Linked DNA regions of Homo sapiens. The protein of the gene in region 2 purifies or fractionates together with the protein of the main gene of each other region. This does not show direct contact. Each region holds a gene or a part of one and is shown on either strand. Other genes may lie near its edges.

Region 1 (3,649 bases), on a different chromosome or scaffold from region 2:
TCAGTGGGTTCACTTCACATTCATGCTGCACTGGGCCTGACACGTTCAGCACCATGAAGCAGACACTTCGGCAACTAGAAATGTTACTTCTGTTTGACTTTTTTTCTAAAATGAAAAAGCAGTCTGTGAAATGCGTGTTAAGAACGATCTATCTAGAGTCGCACAGGGTCCAGGGCCGCTGCAGTTGACTCAGTTGTTCCCATCCTCGTTTTATTTGACAAAGTACTTCATTTGGCCACTCTGGAAGAATTTATTTTCTTGATATCAACTGGGCTCAGAATCAGTGTTCCATTTTTGAATTTTCCAACCTGTCCAATCCGTCCATTTGACAAAATACTGGGAGCGGACTTCTTTTTGGATTTCCTACATTTAAAGTAAGAGAAAGGTACTATAAATAGTCAAGCTTACCAACAAGCATCACAGTACCACCAACCAGGCCACTGCAGTCTGGCCTGCAAACTCCTGGTCGCCTGCCATGCACACCCCCCACCCCATACGCCTTCCTGTGGTCCCTGAAACATGCTACTGCCTTCCTGCCTCAGGGCCCTTGCACTGGTTTCTTCTGCAAGGAATGTTCTGCTACCAGCTCTTTCCAGGCTGCCCCTCTTCTTTGTTCAGTTCTCAGCTCCGATGTCACCTCCTCAGACTAATTTCCCAGCTCACCTTCTCCCTGTGGTTTTCCTTCACAATGCTCTCTTTCAGCCTCTCTACAATACTTGCCAGTACCTGATATCATCTTACTTATCCATTTGTATGTTTTGGGGTGTTTCTCTCCCTACAATGAAGCTCCTCAAGGGCAGGGATATCTTTAGTGTGATTACAGCTGTACACCAATACCTAAGACACCCACATGCCTGGCACAAAGAGGCATTCAACAGATACAGATCGGTGGCCAGAACAAATGACCATTTTACAGCATGTACAAGTGCACTAGGAGCCCAAGAAAACAGGCTAAGACAAAAAGAGTCCATTCTGAAACAGTAACTCAAAGACAGAGAAAAAGGCATTTGAACAAAAGCTAACAAACAAGTATAAAGCAACAAAGTCAACATCCCTTATTCATAATTACGGTGCTCTATCTTACGTGGTATGTCAAAGAGCAGGCTATACAGACCCAGACTACGCTGCTGTAGCAGCACTCTTAGAAGTCTTTTCTTGGAAATGTAAACTGCAGCTTTTCCACTAGTCACTTAGAGTGTCGGTGAAAAGTGGAAGATTGGAGAAACTTCCTAATTCAGTTCTCAGGCAGTTGTTTGATCTTGGGCAGTTTACTAAATCCTACTTTGACAAGGATAAATGAGAGACAGTGAAGCGCTCTAATGGGCTAGCAACACCACATACATTCAAGGCGTCCTTGTCAGAACTCATCAGTAGGTTCATCCAGATTGTTCAACCCCAGGACCTGATAAAATCACTCACCTGTCCTCCTGTCCTTTCCTCTTCTTTTTCTTGAAAATATCTGTTTCTTGGGCCTGATTTCAGAATTTAAGATCATATACATATTAGTAGTGGATAATGGGATTCAAACAAAAGGCAAGAGGTTTGTGACCAAAAGTCATTGAGATACCATTTTTAACATTTCTTTCAAGTGGGCATATTAAACATAACAGTCTCAAAGTTTTACCCTAAAACCCTTTCAAGAATGTGAAAGGCTGGGCCTGGCGTGGTGGCTCATGCCTATAGTCCTAGCACTCCAGGAAGCCAAGGGGGGAGGATCACTTGATCCCAGGAGTTCAAGACCAGCCTGGGCAACACAGCAAGATCCTGTCTCAGTTAGAAAGAAAAAGACAAAAGAATGTGAATGGCTATTCCAGGTAAGACTAATAGTCTTACACTGAAAGCTCAAATCTTCCATTTTAGGTGAAAGGTAGAAAGTGTAACATCTATTCCCCTTGTGGTTTTTCATAGGCCCTTGTGTTGTATACAAGGTTATACAACGTAAAATGCAAAAAAAAAAAAAAAAAAAAAAAAAAACCTAAGTATAGAAGAAAGATCAAAGTAGCCTGCATTATTGGAACAGGATTGCTATAGTTTGGATAGCTGACCCTCCAAACCTCAGGTTGAAATTTGATCCCAACATTAGAGACGGGACCTAGTGGGAGGTGTTTGGGTCATGGCAATGGATCCCTCATGAATGGCTTGGTGCTGTCCTCATGGTAATGAGTGAGTTCTCCCTCTGTTACTTCCCACTTCCCATGAGAGCTGTTTGTTAAAAAGAGCCTGGCACCTCTCCCCACTGCTGCTTCGCTCTTTCATGTCTCGCTCTTGCCATGTGATCTCTGTACACATGGGCTTCCCTCTGCCTTCCCTCATGAGCGGAAGCAGCTTCAGATGCTCACCGGAGGCCGAGCAGATGCCAGTGCTATGCTTTCCATGCAGTCTGCAGAACCATGCTCCAAATCAGCCTCCTTTCTTTATAAATTACGCAGCATCAGGCATTCCTTTACAGCAACAAAAACGGACTAAGACAAGGAGTTTGCTATTTCAAAGCAAATCTTGCATGTAAGTACGCCAGATTACTTGGCTGGTATTACTAAACAGAGCTAACTCGAAGAAATGGGGAGCATGGGATCCTTTAACTCTGGTGCCTTCATTGCTCTCCAAGCAGCGGCTTCCGGCATTCCACTGTGGCAAAGAGCATCCATCTTCCCATTCTAGTTGAATAAAGGACAGACCATCACACCTACCAGTCTCTTTTCTTCTTCCTTTGCTGCCTTTTTTTCTTTAATTTGCTCCTGTAAAACCTTGTAATTCACATAACTCTTTTTAGGAGGCTGTAATGAAAGAACAAAGAAACAAACCATCATATTTTATTCTGCAAAAATGTTCCAGTGTCCCTTGCCCTGACTTGCTCTTAGCTTTCCTTGCTCTTGCTTTTTTTGCATGTTGTCTAGTGATGAAAGGTAGCAGCAGCCCCTCACCTTAGCGCCCAGCATAATGGCACGTTCCTGTTCCAGGATTCTCTCCTTTCCTTTTCCATAACCCGTGATACCAAACCGGTGCACTTCTAAACGAGCCTGCGGACACAAAGCATAATCAGACGCAAGTGCATTCCAACAACTCCAAAGAAAAAAACATACTGCCAGAAGTAATGCATTTCAGATCCACCGCTCTGTAATGACAGCGTACAGGAATAATAACTCCACTGTCATGTGGTCAAAGGAGCTCTATGGAGGCTCTCCTACCATACACCATCTCTCACAACATCTTTCTCCTGTTTTTTTTCCTTTGAGACAGGGTCTTGCTCTGTTACCCGCCAGGATGGAGTACAGTTAAAAAGAGGCATGATCATGTCTCACTGCAGCCTTGACCTCCTGGGCATGTGATCTCCTGCCTCAGCCTCCCGAGTAGCTAGGACTATAGGCACGCACCACCACACCCAGCTAATTCTTAAAAAATGTTTTATAGAGAAGAGGTCTCACTATGTTGCCCAGACTGGCCTTGAACTCCTAGGCTCAAGTGATCCTCCCACCTCAGCCTCCCAAAGTGCTGGGATTATAGGTGTGAGCCACCGTGCCTGGCTCTCGCCCACGGTTTTTTTTTTTTTTTTTTTTTGAGACGGAGTCTCACTCTGTTGCCCAGGCTGGAGCACAGTGGCATGATTTCAGCTCACTGCAAGCTCTGCCTCCTGGGTTCATGCCATTCGCCT
Region 2 (3,749 bases):
ACCTGGGAGGCTGAGGTAGGAGGATCGCTTGAGCCCAGGTTACAGTGACCTATGATTGCACCACTGTACTCCAGCCTGGGCGACAGAGCAAGACCTTCTCTCTAAAAAAAAGAAAAAAAATTGCTTCGTCAAATCTGCCCACATTCATAGATATAGGCTGAGTGGGACGATGGCTTGAGCCCAGGAAGGAGTTGGATGGAGGCTGTAGTGAGCTGTGATTGCACCACTGTACTCCAGCCTGAGTGACAGACCAAGACCCCGTCTCAAAAACAAAACAAAAAACCCCAAGGGAGCTACTCTTGGCTGGGCGATCAGGGAGGGCCCTCCTGAGGAAGGGGCACTTAAGCTGAGATCGGGAAGATGAAGTAGAAGAGTTCCAGCTGCAGGGAGCCACATAGGCAAAGGCCTGGCGGTGGGAAAGGCTTGGTGCACTGGGCGCAGGGAAGAAAGCCCAGCGAGGCTGAGTGGAGGGAGTGAGGGCCTGGCCACCTCAGCCTCGTGAGCCCAACCCGCCATGCTCTTCCAGAGGCTTCTGCTTGAGAATGGGAAAGAAGTTTCCAGCAAATAAGGCCCCCGTTCCCAGGAGGAGGTCCCAGCTCGCCCTGCCCCCTCCTGTCTTCTCAAGTCCCCTGGGCCACAGAAGCCTTGAGGGACCCACCCTCACCCCTTCTGTGGGCCCCAGGGCTGGGGTGTCCTCTCGCCGATGGCCTTCTTGGGGTGGATGAGTGGAGATTACTCCAATAACTGGAGCCTCTGTCTTCCCAGGTAGACAGGCCTGGCCTCAAAACCCTCTCTCCATCAGGAGCAGGCTGTGGGACTTCAGCTCTTTGGAGCCTCAGGTTCCTCATCTGTAAAATGGGAAGATTCTTTCTTCCGGAGTCATCTTAATAAAATGTGTTGGGCTGTTTATACAGGGCAGGCATTTGGTGGGGGCCAAACCACCGGGTAATTATGCTAAAAATAACTATGATTATAGGTGGCAGAGGGGTGCAAATGCCTCACAGCCTCATCCCGCAGAGGAATGAGAGCTTCGTCAGGGCCGGGACCTTGTCTGGCTCGTGGCTGCTCCCACGACGACTGGCGTGGCAGGCACGTGGTCAGTGTTCCGCCATCGACTGACTGGGCGGATGAATGATACATAAATGAATTCGCGAACGACTGATGCCCAGCTTCCTCCCGAAGCAAGGTCATTCACCTCAGCGGTCGCGCCTCTCCCCTGCCCCTGCCCCGGATTCCCCGCCGCTCTCAGCTCTCGAGGAGTATGCAGCACTCTTCCGTGCAGCGTGCCTCAGTTTCCTCCGCTGTAAGCAGGCGGGACCAAGGCAGCCTGCCGGGGTCAGGATGAGGCTGGCAGAGGAAGGGCGCCTGTAGTGGGGCCCCGTACCCACGGGCGCCCAATCCGCGCTCGCCAGGGCCGAGCCCGCCCGCCGCGCGCAGCCCCCGCCCCACCGCCTGCCGGCCCCGAGCACACGTGACTCCGCCCCGGCCCGCCCCGCCCCGCCGTCCCAGCGCGGGCTCCCATTGGCCTTTCTGGGAGGCCCCGTCCCCAGCCGGGGAGGAGCCGGGCCCCGCCCGCCGCAGCGCGGGGCTCCTGCGTCCCGAGTGCGCGGCGGCCGGACCGGGCGGGCGGAGCCGGGCCCGCGGGGCTGCTGCGGGGCGATCGGGCCGGGCCGCTGCCGCGCCATGGTGAGCCGGGCGGGGCAGGCCGCGCGCTCGGGCCGGGCGGGGGCGCCGGGGCCCGGGGGCGGGAAGGGGGAGGCCAGGACGAGGAGGGGCGCGCGCGGCGGCGGGGCCGGGCCGGGGTCTGCGGGCGGGGGAGGGGCGGCCCGGCGGGCGCGGCTCGGGGGAGGGTCCGTTCCAGGGGCCGCGCCCGCGGGCTGGGGTTCTTTGTCAGCGGCGCTGCGGCGAGATCCGGACAAAGGAGGCGGCGGGGGGCGGAGGCCGCTTTGTGGGGATCGCGGGGCGCTCGCCCCCGCCCGTGCAGCCCCCGCCCGTCCTCAGCTACGCTCCCGCCTTCCCCCGGCATTTCGGGGTTCTTCAAAATTCTGGGAGCTCCGGGGAGGGCTCCGGGGATAGGGGTCCAGGTGACGTCCGGCGCCCGTCTCGCGGGTAGGGAAACTGAGGCCGGGCCGCAGCGTTCGGCGCCCGGTTCCGTGGGCAGCGGCTGCGCGGCGTGGGCATGCCTAGCTCCCCTGGTCCCCGTCCCACACCCCGCCTCCGTCGGGCCGATTCGAGCTACCTCCCCAGCTGCCGTCCCCTCTCCAGCTGTCGCCCCCTGGGCCGAGCCCCCTCCTCCCTGGAGCCTCGCTTTGCTCCTCCGTGGAGTGGGGGAGACGCCGGCGCCGCCGGGCAGGGTGGAACGGGAGGGTGCGCGGAGCGCGCCTGGCACCGCGCCTGCCACGCCGCCCGCGCTCAGCACTCGGGAGCCGCCGGGGCGCTGTCACCCCTAAGTCCCCAGCACCCAGCCCAGGTCGCCCAGCCCGCCCCAGCGAGGGCCACACTGGGGTTCACCTGTCCGCGGCCCCTCAGGCACGCGGGAGAGGAGGTAGGGAGAATGTGGCATTTTAGAGTCAGGGTCGAAATGCGGGATTTTGGATGCAGGTTGCCTGGGTTTGAATCCCTGCGCGTCTACTTTTGAGCTGTGTGACCTTGGGCAATGGACTTAACTTCTCTGAGCCACCAATTTCTGTATCTGCCAAGAGGGAACAGTAATAGCTCAACTGCCCTGTTGTCTTGAGGCAGAAAGGAGACATCTGCGTGAGCTGTTTATCTCAGTGTCTGGCACATATAATTGCCACCAACTTTCTCCGGCATCTACAAGCAAAGTTGTTTGGCCAAACAGGCCAACCCTGGGGCAGCCTGTGAAAATGACCAGCGGGTGATTCACAGGGTGGGGGCATGAGCCTCTGGCCTGGCCCGAGGAAGACCCCGACTGACCTTGGGGCAGTCCCGGTTCAGAGCTCTGCGGGCTCCCGCTTCCTCTTTTGCCACTGGGGAACCTAGGGGATTCTGGAGCGAGTTTCCTCTTCTGAGGATGGGGGTGTCATGGGTGGGGGTGGAGGATGAGATAACACTGGCCAGAGAGCTGGGCACAGCCCCATCAGTGTCAGTCCCACTGGCATCCGGCCGTTCTTGGTCCTGGCTTCTGGAGGGCTGGGGCCTTGTGTGATGCGTCCTTGTGTCCCACTGGCTGCTGGAGGCCCAGGGCAGAACGGACGTCCCGCCTCGTCCTGGCTGTGTCCAGCAGTGCCCTCTTCTCCCTACAACCCTGTTTTCCCAGTCAGAACCTGGGGCAGGAAACGTTTCTGGTTTGTGACCCGGGGTTCGCTGAAGAGTTTGTTGGCACCCTTGGCAGGTGGCTTTATGGGGGGAGGCAGTACTGAAAGCCCCGTAGGGATGGCTGGTCCCCTGTAAGCAGGGCAGCCCTCCTGGCGTCTGTCAAGGAGCCTCAGGAGGTGGCGGCTGCAAGGCGGGGGTGTTTTGCTGGTGGTGAGCCCGGCAATGCTCATGATGTGCCCGGTTGAGTTAGGAGGAGGCAGCGTGTCCCTGGGGAAGGGGTGTTTGTGGCACTGGGCCTGGGCCAGGCTCTGTGCCCTTCTGGCCCTGGGGGTGGGCTTGGGGATCCCTCGGGCTCAGTGTTCTCCCTTTGTCCCTGCTGTAGCACACAGGAAGGTGTGGCTGGTGACATGCAAACCTGGTGACCTCATGTCCCTTTTGTTTTCACTTTTCTTACCACTTCTCATCCTCCC

What was found. The genes of interacting proteins can lie anywhere in the genome.
Region 1: the proteins of SNN (region 2) and FSAF1 purify together in Homo sapiens (affinity purification with mass spectrometry; one large-scale study listed by BioGRID and IntAct). This does not show direct contact.

Annotation. Positions count from the first base shown.
Region 1 is NC_000001.11:231,224,052-231,227,700, forward strand, and holds part of FSAF1 (40S small subunit processome assembly factor 1), read right to left. Parts: intron 3,018-3,649; coding exon 2,922-3,017; intron 2,775-2,921; coding exon 2,688-2,774; intron 1,473-2,687; coding exon 1,420-1,472; intron 364-1,419; coding exon 228-363; 3' UTR 1-227.
Region 2 is NC_000016.10:11,666,855-11,670,603, forward strand, and holds the start of SNN (stannin), read left to right. Parts: upstream 1-1,600; 5' UTR 1,601-1,686; intron 1,687-3,749. UniProt on the Homo sapiens protein: Plays a role in the toxic effects of organotins. Plays a role in endosomal maturation.